Regions from separate parts of the Homo sapiens genome. Here region 1 is linked to region 2. The links come from fine-mapping of genetic effects on gene expression. A gene starts in region 2. The other region holds a variant in brackets. All regions are shown on one strand. Distances are between the middles of the regions. Region 1 overlaps BOC (BOC cell adhesion associated, oncogene regulated). Region 2 holds the start of BOC (BOC cell adhesion associated, oncogene regulated).

Region 1 (5,372 bases), 35 kb before region 2:
AATGTTTCCATTTGACTGTAAGGGCAGGGAAAGGGAAGGAAAGCACTCACTCAAGTCAGCAAAGCAGCCTGCTGTGGCTAGGAGGAGGCAAGCCAGTGTGACCTCAGGCCTCATTCCTCTCCACGCCGTCATCGTCCCACGCAGCATGGTGTATCACAAAGGTCTGAAGCCAACGTCCCATAAGCCGCCAGGGTCACACAAAGAGATACTGCCGTCCCTGGCAACACTCTGTTGTAAGAGAGAAAGGGAGAGCAATGGCCATGATGAGGATGCCTGGGGTGCACCTGTGGTGGCCACAGGGCTTGGCTTTGTCCCTTGTTCCCTGTTGGCAACATTCAAACTAGAGACCCGGTCATGCTGCTGGAAGACCAAAGAACACTATAGTGCCATTTCTCATCTAAAAGAAGCTTCTTATAAGTTGCCCCCTAGGGCTCTTTCTCTAGCTAGAAGGTGATTTTATTGTAGTAAGAATGCTGGAGTCTTGCCCAGTGGATGGACAGCAACGAGGAGGAGGGGCAGAGGATACAGAGAGGCTGAGGCCTGCAGCCATATCCATGGCACAGGACAGTGACTATCTGGCACAGATGCTAGAACAGATGAGATTATTCTTACCATTTGCTTGCAAAAGGCCAGCTGGTCACAGCCATGTGCCCTGCCATGTGGTTAGTGCAGACTATTGTGGGACAGCAGTGCCGTGTGTGTGATGCATACAGAACGCCCTTGCAGGGAATGCTACTAAGTGAATGAATCCTAGCATCTCAGTGACTCATGAAATATTTCCTGCTCTGATTTTCCTCACCCCAGCTCTATGCCTAGATCCCTGAAAACTCCCTTTTATTCCTGCAATCACCCTGCTCTCCTCAGCTTGTCCATAACATCTACTCCCACAGGTACAAACACAGCCCAAAGTCATAAGCCAGCCAAGACCCCTCACTTTCTCAGGGCACAGAGCCTTGTTTTCGCTTCACTCACTAGCTCCCACTTCTCTCTGCTCCCGGTGCTAGAAAATTTTGAACTTTTCCGTCTCTACAAAATCTACACTCTTGATTACCCAAGTTGTATCTCCACCCAGAACAACATTGCTTTGAGGCTCAGACCACACTGCACCTCCAGCCATCTGACAACACACCTCAGCTATCAGTCACCCTCTCTGCCTAGAACAGTAGCATCTCCTGTTCCAGAAGGCACAATTTTTTATGCCTTTCTTAAGCTATGGTCCTTACAAGATTTATCAAAATCACATGGGCAAGTGTATATTCTAACACACACACACACTTCTGTCACAGCCAAAACAAAGATTTTGCTTCTGTGCTTTTCACTGATGGGTTTATAGAACATTAACAAATAAGGATGGGGTATCAACAGCCTTATTAGGCAGGGAGGCATTGAAATGAGTTCGGATAACGTTGAAGGCAACATTCCAGTGATCTGCACGGTGGATCATTCACCTGTGGCAATATTAATAGTATATTTCTAGGAGTGTGACATACATTCAAAATGTTAACTCTTCTAGATCAATCTACCTAACCAGAGACTCTCTCGAAGATTTACAGTCACCATTTAAAACTCAGAAGTAGTTAAGCTTCTCAACTGAGAGATGTGTTGTGCTGGCCAGTCCTAGAGTTCAGGCTGCCTGCAGAGACTGCCGTAAGAAACAGGAGACACCCGACTTGCCTGACACAGGGGACTGTTGCTGTGTTGGGAAGTGCTTCGGATTAACCTAAACCTTTCCCTTCCCCAAGACCTGTGGTCCTTTGGCTTTCTGCCTGGCTGCAGAGGGAGTGAGGAGGGCCATATCCACACTGCCCAATGAGCACCCCTCCAAACCAGATGGAGGACCCCAGCCCCTAGCATTCTGTGGATGCTCAGAATGTTTTCCAAGAGTTCTTTCCCGATGGTTTGTATTTTCTCCCTTTGCCTCATGACTTTGACATCAGAGGACTCACAAGACTTCAGCACTACTCTGGGATAGGACAAGGGGATGTTTTCTAAAAGGGATTTGAAAGAACATTTTTAAAGAAGTTTTTCAAAAGTTATTTCCTGGCAAGTTAAGATAATTTCCCGTTGGTGTAGAGAGAGAGCTTTTGCTCTTTTTCAAACAATCCAGTAAATCAAAGGGTCATATTATTGGCAAAGTAAAATTCATGAAAGCTGCAAAGGATGTGAGTACAATTGGGAGGGGCTGTGGTGGTGGAAAGCTGGGGGTGCCTGCCACTACTCCAGGAACTCGCTAAGCTCTTACACAATGTATTTCCTTTAACCTTCTCATCAACCCTGCAAGGTGACGACTATATCCCCATTTTACAGGAGAGAAAATTGAGTTCCAGAAGTGAAGTTGCCCAGGATCACATAACAGTAGGCCTGGATTGAAACCCAGTTT[A/G]GGCTGATTCCCAAACTCTGTGCTTTTTAATCACAATAGTAGCCTTTTTCCCTTTTTTTTTTTTTTTTTCCTATCAGGGCTCTGAAACCAGTGGGTGTTTAGCAAACAGAGTTGATGTAGAACAGTGGGACATTTTAACAGTGATTTCTAGAGGGAAAGTTTACACCAAAAAGTAAGCTTTTGGTTTCCTCTCAATTTTCCAGATACTTGCTTTAATTCTCTAATTTGCTTTTCCCCAATGAGATAAGGTATTTATATAGATCATTGCATGAGTTCCCAGTTATGGGATTTTAGGGAACTAGCTTGTTCAAGTCATGCCCCAATTTCCCCAGGCCCTTAAGGAAATTGAAAGCAAATGTTCCTTCCATGCCCCAAGAAGGGAAGGAAGGGAGGGAGGAAGAAAGGGAAGAAGGGAGGTAGGGAGACAGAAAATGAACATAAAGTAATGAAGGGCAAAAGAGGACAAGCAGACAAAGAGGAATGGAAGGGTTGTTTCTTATCTGAACACACGGTGGCTACGGAGGTGTTGGGTTGTAACAGCAACAAATATTTTACTGAGGAAATTCAGCCCAGACCCTCTCCTGCTTAACGAGGACCAGCCAAACAATTCCTGTTACTTCTGCACCCTCGGTAATTTATAAGGTTCAAAATGGAAACAGATCCTGTTGCTGCTGCCAGCCACCATCCTGCTTTCAAAAACAACAAGGAGAAAAGAATTGGGAGTGAGAGGGAGTGAGAAGGTGCAGGTATCCAGAGAGGGAGAAAGGAGTTAACCCATTAAGCCCCACAACACAGTTGTAAGAAGTACCATTTTAAGGACCCCAAAACAGGATGCGTGGGGTCTCATTCATGTAAAAGCAGAACTATGACCAAAAAATATGGCTATGTTTGGGGAAGGTTGGGGGGCTTGGTCACTGGATGATGATTATAAATAAATAAATAAAATTATAAATACATAAAATGATGCATTTTATTTAGTATCTGGGGAAAGTGAGTTACTTTTTGAACCAAGTTACCTAGTGAGTTTGGTTTAGAAAGATAATTCTAGAGATTTCAGTTACCTGAGAACTTTATTTTAATGTTTCGGGAAAAAAGGCAAGTAACGCTTAAGCTGGAGAACCTAATTGCAGTGTAACGTTGTCCCATTGTGAAATGAACAAAGTACAATTTCAAAGTTGGGTGAAGGCAACAGTAAGGCCTATTATTTTTCTTGGCAATGCAAAATATATCTAAGATCCTTCTTATTTTCCTTAGTCATTTTCTGAGACAAAGCAGAGAAATCAAGAAAAAAATATCAAAATCATTTGACACCTCATTGAGGCCTAGGTACTTGACAGTTTAAAGGGTTATTTGGACACACACAAAAAAAGAAAGAAAATGGGTCTGAAACATTTAACTGCTGACACACATGTTCTCCACTGAAATAATCTCTTCCAAACAGATGTTTTTGAAACTTTCCAAAAACAACAACAACAAAACACACTCTGGGGTTAAGACCAATCCTGAGAAACTGTAGCCTCAGAGTATTTATTTTTTGAGAAAATTACAAACAACTGAGAGTCGATCATCATCAGGAGGAGGCCAGCTCCACTTCCTCCCAAGAGGGCTGGCTGACTAACTGGATCAAGAGTGAGAACACCACAAAAAGCCGTCGGCTCATCCCCTGGACGCCCATGCCACGGCAGCTGTCAGAAAGGGAAGCTTCTATGATCTAAAACACAAAACATGCCCTTTGGATGTCCTAAGACCAATAACAAAGGTGAGCTGAATAGGAGAGAGTGTGATGTAGCAGATAGCACAAAGAGACTTTCTTAAAAACATTCTTCAAGTGGCAAGAATACGATCTGACAAAGTCTTTTGTTCCATTGGTAGAGAGGGACTAGCTACATGAAAAAGAAAAAAATCCTGCTCCAAGTTACTTTTCATTTTGCATGCTCCCAGTTTTCTAGAGTAAGAATCACCTTTCCCAATTGTCTTAAAGGCAGGGAAAGCTTTGCTCCTAGAAGGTGATGCCAAGTGTCTGGGGTGCAAGTGTTGGCAGCCCCCTATCTCAAGAAAGAGGGTAGTACTCCTGCACAGAAGAGAGGCATTGAAGCAAATATTGGGGAAATAAGTGAATTTAATTTTCAGAGGGCTGAATATGTGAGTTTAGATAGACTTAGGAGAAGGAATTAAGAAAGAAAGGTTTACTGAGGAGGCTGAGGTAGGAGGATCACTTCAGCCCAGGAATTTGAGGTTGTAGTGAGCTATGACAGGCACTGCACTGCATTCCAGCCTGGGCAACAGAGCAAGACTCTGTCTCTAAAAAAAGAGAAAGAAAGCTTATCAAAACATCAGGTTGTATACCTTTAAATATATACAAAAAACAAAGGTCATTTTTACTTAAAAAGTTGTATTTGACACACAGACCTAATTTAAAAAATTTTTTTAATTAAAATTTTTTTTAATTCGGAGGGACCTCAGAGAAAATAAACAAGTATCGTAGAGTAATGCCTAATGTGTTTTGAGTGTTATGAATAATGTGTCAAGGCTGAATGAGTCTAAGTGATTTGTAGAAGGTCTCCCAGCTAATTCAGAAGGGAGACTTTGGGCTACAAGTCAGGTCTTCTCACTCCTAGTCCAGTGCTCCTTTTACTATCTTAACACTACCTCCTAGCAAATTGTTTCTGGAGCCACTTTAATCAACTGGCTAGAAACGGTTTCAAAGCCAATTTTAGAATGTTTCTGAATTTACTTCCTTATACATAAGAATAATGTTACCTGGATCATTATCTATAACAGTAACTTTCTGTGTGATCATTTTTATCCTTTCATCATACATTCTAATCTATAAAAATCTCCTACTGTTCATTGCATAAGCCCCTTCCGTAGAATTTTCTGCAATGATGGAAATATTCTATATTTGTGCTGTCTAAAGCACTAGATAGCTACTAGCCACTCAGGGCTATGAAGTTCTCAAAATGTGGCTAATGTGACTAAGACACTGAAGTTT
Region 2 (5,372 bases):
AGGGCTTAGAGTTTGGAGGAAAGAAAGCAACTTCCAAATATATAATATCTTTTGGTGCCAAGTTAATATTTTCTTATTCAGAGGCCACAAGGTATTGGATAGCAATTATTTGGTGCACCTGAGTTTTCTGTTGTAGTTTGAAAGACACAGAGATAAACCCTAATTCATTACCCACATCAGTGGCTTTGCCGAAATTTGAACCCAGACCCCCTAGGGGACACGGAACACTATGACACATCAGGCTCACTTCTTGCTCTCCTTTTTCAAACCGTGGGGGGTCCATGTGAAAGTCAACTGAATTATTTCATGGGTAAAATCTCTTATTCATTCTTAGGGCATGGAAACCATGTTGTTGAAGAGAGCCGGGATCCCAAACACTTGAAAAAGCACTTCAAAAAAAGGGAAAATCTCTGGACCCATTTGGAGGGTGGAAAGGAACATAAATCACACAGCTTACCAAGAGTTGGCTCACCAATTAACAGCTAAGCAGAGTCCTCTCTATTTTTTCCCCACACCCTCCCTCTCCAGTTGTAGTCAAAGAATCAACCATTCTGGCTTCTAGCAACCTCTTTTCCCAAGTAAAGCCAGTGGCCTATGGCGTGGGGGACAACTGCTCCCTAGCGAATGTCTCTTGCAGTGAAGCATTTCTGAAGTATCTCGATAGAGGATAAAAGAGACAGTGTCTGAGGTCTCAATCCTCAGGCTTCATAAATGTGTAGACACCCTCCAGCCTCCTCAAGGCCCAAATTCTGAGTGACAAATCTATACAGGGGAGGACAGTGTCAGCAAAGTGGCCCAATGAGGCAACTCTTCTTTCTTTCATTTTACCTCTTTGCATAAACTCATTTGAAAAACTCATAGCAGGAAAATAATAACTCTACTGCTGTTTCTGCCCGGCCTCTGTCCCACTGACCCCAAGGTGCTTTCAGATCACCACGAGAAGCTTCTGGGTCTCAATTATGAGACCATTAAAAAGTACCAATTATAAGACCTCAGAAATGTTTCTGGGAAACCTGTTACACACCTCAAAATGGCTAACCTCTTGCCTCAGATTTACTTTAAGTTCAGAAAACAGGTCACCCAGATGTATGGGCATCCTAGCCCCCACAAGCAGCCCAAGACTGTGGTTTAATATTTTCCATGCTGCCCTTAAGAAAACGAAGATTGATTTATTGGCTGTAACCAAAGGGATGAAAAAAACCATCACAGAGCTGGGCTGCCTGTTTAAGACCCAGTCGTGGAATAAATCAGAAATGTCTGCACACTGAAGTTTTAAAATGACATTCATCCAATGGTCAATGTGTACCGAGTTCTGGACAACAAAGAACTAGGTGACAAATGTGTGCTGGGCACAGTGCATCTGCAGGTGGCACAAGGGCCTGAAATCAAAATATAATCTTCACTCAGTCCACTCAAAGAGGTAACTCTGGGTCAAAAACTTAGGCGAACCCATTTGAACTTGCAGAGAAGGGATGAGGGGAGCAGCAGAACACCCCACCACACCCAAAAAGTGCCAGTTTGGGATTGCTGGTGTGTGGTTTCGGTATTCTTAGCTCTACTGCCACATCTCTGGAGGAGCACAACTCTGTTCCAAGCAACTCTGGCACTGCCACCCCCATCCCCAAAACAAAACTCTGCCAAACAAATCCCCGAGGCTCCATTAACTCCTTCAGGTCTGCCTGCCTCTCTCATCCCTCAGCATTCTCCCATCACCTGGAAAAGCAAATTAATACTGAACATCCTGAAAGTCAAGCAGGCCCTTCAACACCCCCATGAAAATTCTTCCTGGGTTCCCTGCCCTCCCCACAGCCCCGTCCCACTGGTTCCAGAGATTCATTTCCCACACCTTCTCACAGTTACATCAACAAAAACCCCAGGAGGACGCTGCTGGCGCGAACACGCACACACGCGCGCGCACACACGTACACGCACACACGAACTCTCTCTCTCACACACACACACACCTCTTTCACCTTTGCCCCAGCCCCTCAGACACCTCGGGCCACTCGGCTTCAGCCTCGCCCCTCTGCGCCAACAGCTAGGGATGCTTCCCTCAAGCTGCGTCGCTCCCGGTCCGCTGAGTTCCTCATTTTAGTGTTTTTCCTTTAGAAGACGCCAACTATGAGAAACCCTCACCCTCCAAAGAGGCCGAGTGCGTGTTGAGTGACTCTACGCATTTGCCGCCACGCCTCGGGTTCCCCCCACGGCCTGGAGCATGGGGCCGGGGCGCTGGTGTCAACCTTCGGTGGAAGTTTGGGAGGCTGGCTGGATCCTTCTTCCACCCGAGAAGCTTCTGGGAACCGCTGAGGCGAAACCACCATCGCCCGGCCAGACCGCTGCGGCAGGGAACGAGATGCGGCGCCCCTGGGCCCCGTAGCGGCTGCAGCCCCCGGGACCCCCGCTGCCCGCCTCGCCCCAACTTCTTCGCCCGGCGCCCGGCGCGCCCAGCCTCGGCCGCAGCTCCCAGCCCCGGGCGCCCGGCCGAGCGCTGGGACCCGGCTCCCGCCGCCGGCACGTCCCCCGGCAGCCACTCGCTGGCGCTGCCTCGGCCTGCGGCCGCCTCCCGCCCCCTCCTCTCCCCGAACCAACAGTAAACACAACTTTTTATGAAAAGAAAACAAACTTCAGCGACGTGACTCACCTCTGCTGCAGCCGGCGCCTGGGAAGGGCGAGCCGGGGCCCGGGGGCCAGCGTGGTGGGCGCGAGGGAGCCACACAGCGCCGCGCCGCACGGACACACAACACGCTCGGTGACACCGGGGACACACAACACGGGCGAGCGGCCGCGGCTGGAGCAACAAAGGAGCCGAGGACCGAGAAGTTGCGGGCCGGAGAGGGAGGGCGCGTGCGGGCGTGTTGTGGCTGTGGCGGGCGTGAGGGTGTGCGCGCCGTGTGTGCGCGTGTGTGTCTTTTCTGTGTGTGTTTGTGTGTCTCTGTGTGTGTGTCTGTGCGCGCGCGCGGCGGCTGACACCGGCGGGCCGGGGCTCAGGGTCCCCGCGGCAGAAAGCGGCGGCCGCGGGGGCGGCAGCAGGAGGACAACGCAGGGGACGCCGCGCCCAGCGCACCCGGTCCCTCCATATGGAAGAAGCTTTTTGGATGACTGAACTCGCAAACAATTCCTTCTTTTGCTTCTCCTGCCTAGGAGCCTCCCATTACCGTGCGAGGAGGAGGAGGAGGAGGGAGTGGAGGAGGCTGGGAGGAGGGGGAGGAGCAAAATGGAGCAAAGAAAAAGTCTTGGAAAGGAAGCTGGAAAAAGTCCCCCAAACTCTAGGGCAGTTTTCCCGTTAACACCCACTTTTTGCTGTGCCTCAGACCCGCGCTCTCCTCCAACTTCTTTTGCTTTCCCATACCAAAAGCACCATCTTCTCCCTTTTCCCCGAACCCAGGGGGCTCCCCTGAAGCCTTCACTTTCTCTTTAGCTTCACCTCGCACCCTTGCTCTTCCATGTACAATCCTTCCCTCCTTTCGCCTAGTCTCTTCCAAGACTTTCCTGACACCCACCTCTCAATGGTCTTCTTCTTCTGCAAGACAAACTGTTGGATAAATCATTAAAAGCAAACTCATCAGAAAATGGGACAGCGGCGGTGGAGAAAATGATAAGGAAACCAATCTCAGGGAAGCCTTAACGCAGCCTCCCCCGACCCCCTCGGTCGGTTGGGGAGGGTTTGCCGCGTCGTCCATTGACAGCGCCCTGACCTCCATTCATCATCCCAGGATGGAGCCAGGGAGGAATGGGGAGGGAGAGCTGGGGCTGGGGTTGGGGGCATGGGTTGGGGGTGCTAGTGGCCACGGAAAAGTTAGTTACCTATGCGTGTGTATGTGTACGCGCACGCGCGCGTGTGTGTTGGTCAGAAAACTTTCAGAGCTGTGGTTCTCAAACTTGATCTGCAGCAGGACTCCCTGGAAGGCTTGCTAAATCCCTTTGCTGGGCCCCACCTCCAGAGTTTCTGATTCAGTAGGTGGACCTGGGAATTTGCATTTCAAATAGGTTCCCAGGTGATGCTGATGCTGCAGGTCAGGGGCCACGTTTTAAAAACTACCTTTCCAGGGCAGTGAGAAGGCAAATGTTGAGTTGGTGGCAAATTGGATTCCCTTCTTATTTTTTAGGAATGAAGCACAGGTTGTGAGCGGTCATCCATTCCGTATCTTCATTGCAGCTGAGAAAACCAAGTCCCAGCAGGGCTAAGCCATTTGTTTAAAGTGAACTGGGAGTTTGTGCCAAGCTGGTGAGGAAGCTGTCCTGGAAATAAGACAGCCAGGCTAGTAGTAGGGTGAATGGGGGTGCTGCCTTCCCTGTGTGGCTGGACAGCTGCACTGGGAGTCAGGAAGCCACTGTGACTTTGGAAAGTCACTTAACTTTTCTGGGCCTCTGGGGGTTTTGTGTGTGTGTGTGTGTGTGTGTGTGTGTGTGTGTGTGTGTGTGTGTGTGTTTGTTTGTTTGTTTGTTTTTTGACAGAGTCTCACTCTGTCGCCCAGGCTAGAGTGTAGTGGTGCAATCTCGGCTCACTGCAAAGTCTGCCTCCTGAATTCGAGAGATTCTCCAGTGTCAGCCTCCCAAGCAGCTGGGATTACAAGCACCTGCCACCATGCGCGGCTAATTTTTGTATTTTTAGTAGAGACGGAGTTTCACCATGTTGTCCAGGCTGGTCTTGAACACCTAGCCTCAAGTGATCTGCCCACCTTGGCCTCCCAAAGTGCTAAAATTACAGGCGTGAGCCACCTCACCCGGCCCTGTTTTGTTTTTTATTAACTTGTTTCTTGTCAGTAAACATACATACTTTACACTGAGTATAGGACTCTAATTGAATCTGAACCAAAAGACCTTTACAAAGGAAACATAAATGTATTTTATTCCATATTTTGCACTATTTTTTCTCCGGTATTTAGTCATTCAGGCAGAAGCCAATTTCCTTTTTGATTTATCGAGTACTTTCAGCTCTGTGCCTGGATTCTTAGGCATGTTCCTCTGGCAAAATGGATCTGGAGGATGATGCATTTTCAGCAAGAAGGTGAAAAGGACTCTGAACTCTCTCTGTGCATTATCCACCTACATTTCCTTTTCCTACTTAATCATCCTAATTTTCCTTCCCTTTTAATCTCTAACAATCTCCCCCAACATTCTCAAAGACCTATTTTTCTTTCCAGTCATTGACTATATTAGCTTCCACTTTCTTTTGTCCTCCTTCCAAGGCACAATTCTGGACTACAAGGCCTGGGGTCCACCCTGGGTACAGAACTTTTAATTCCCCCAAGGGAATGGGTCAACCAGCTTCCTCTGCAGTGATAACACTCCTTCTCCCCAGGGACCCAAGCAGCGTATCCAGCCTTCTGTTTTTCAAAGATGATTCCAAGTACCGCTCAATGAGAACGTGA

Evidence for each region. PIP is the estimated chance that this variant, and not a neighbour inherited with it, causes the effect.
Region 1: its variant is fine-mapped to the expression of BOC in tibial artery (GTEx, PIP 0.98).

What each region holds. Positions count from the first base shown.
Region 1 is chr3:113,244,578-113,249,949 of GRCh38, reverse strand. BOC (BOC cell adhesion associated, oncogene regulated) reads right to left here. Exons shown (of 20, transcript NM_001378074.1): 3 at 51-228. The coding sequence starts at 147. Among named protein-coding and RNA genes, the nearest start is that of BOC, 36 kb to the right of the region's middle. The variant A/G (reference allele first, on the strand shown) is at 2,381.
Region 2 is chr3:113,209,286-113,214,657 of GRCh38, reverse strand. It overlaps BOC (BOC cell adhesion associated, oncogene regulated), which reads right to left and starts at 3,101. Exons shown (of 20, transcript NM_001378074.1): 1 at 2,642-3,101. LOC124909486 reads left to right here. Exons shown (of 2, transcript XM_047449436.1): 2 at 2,378-5,372. The coding sequence ends at 3,103. RefSeq lists an enhancer at 2,089-2,740.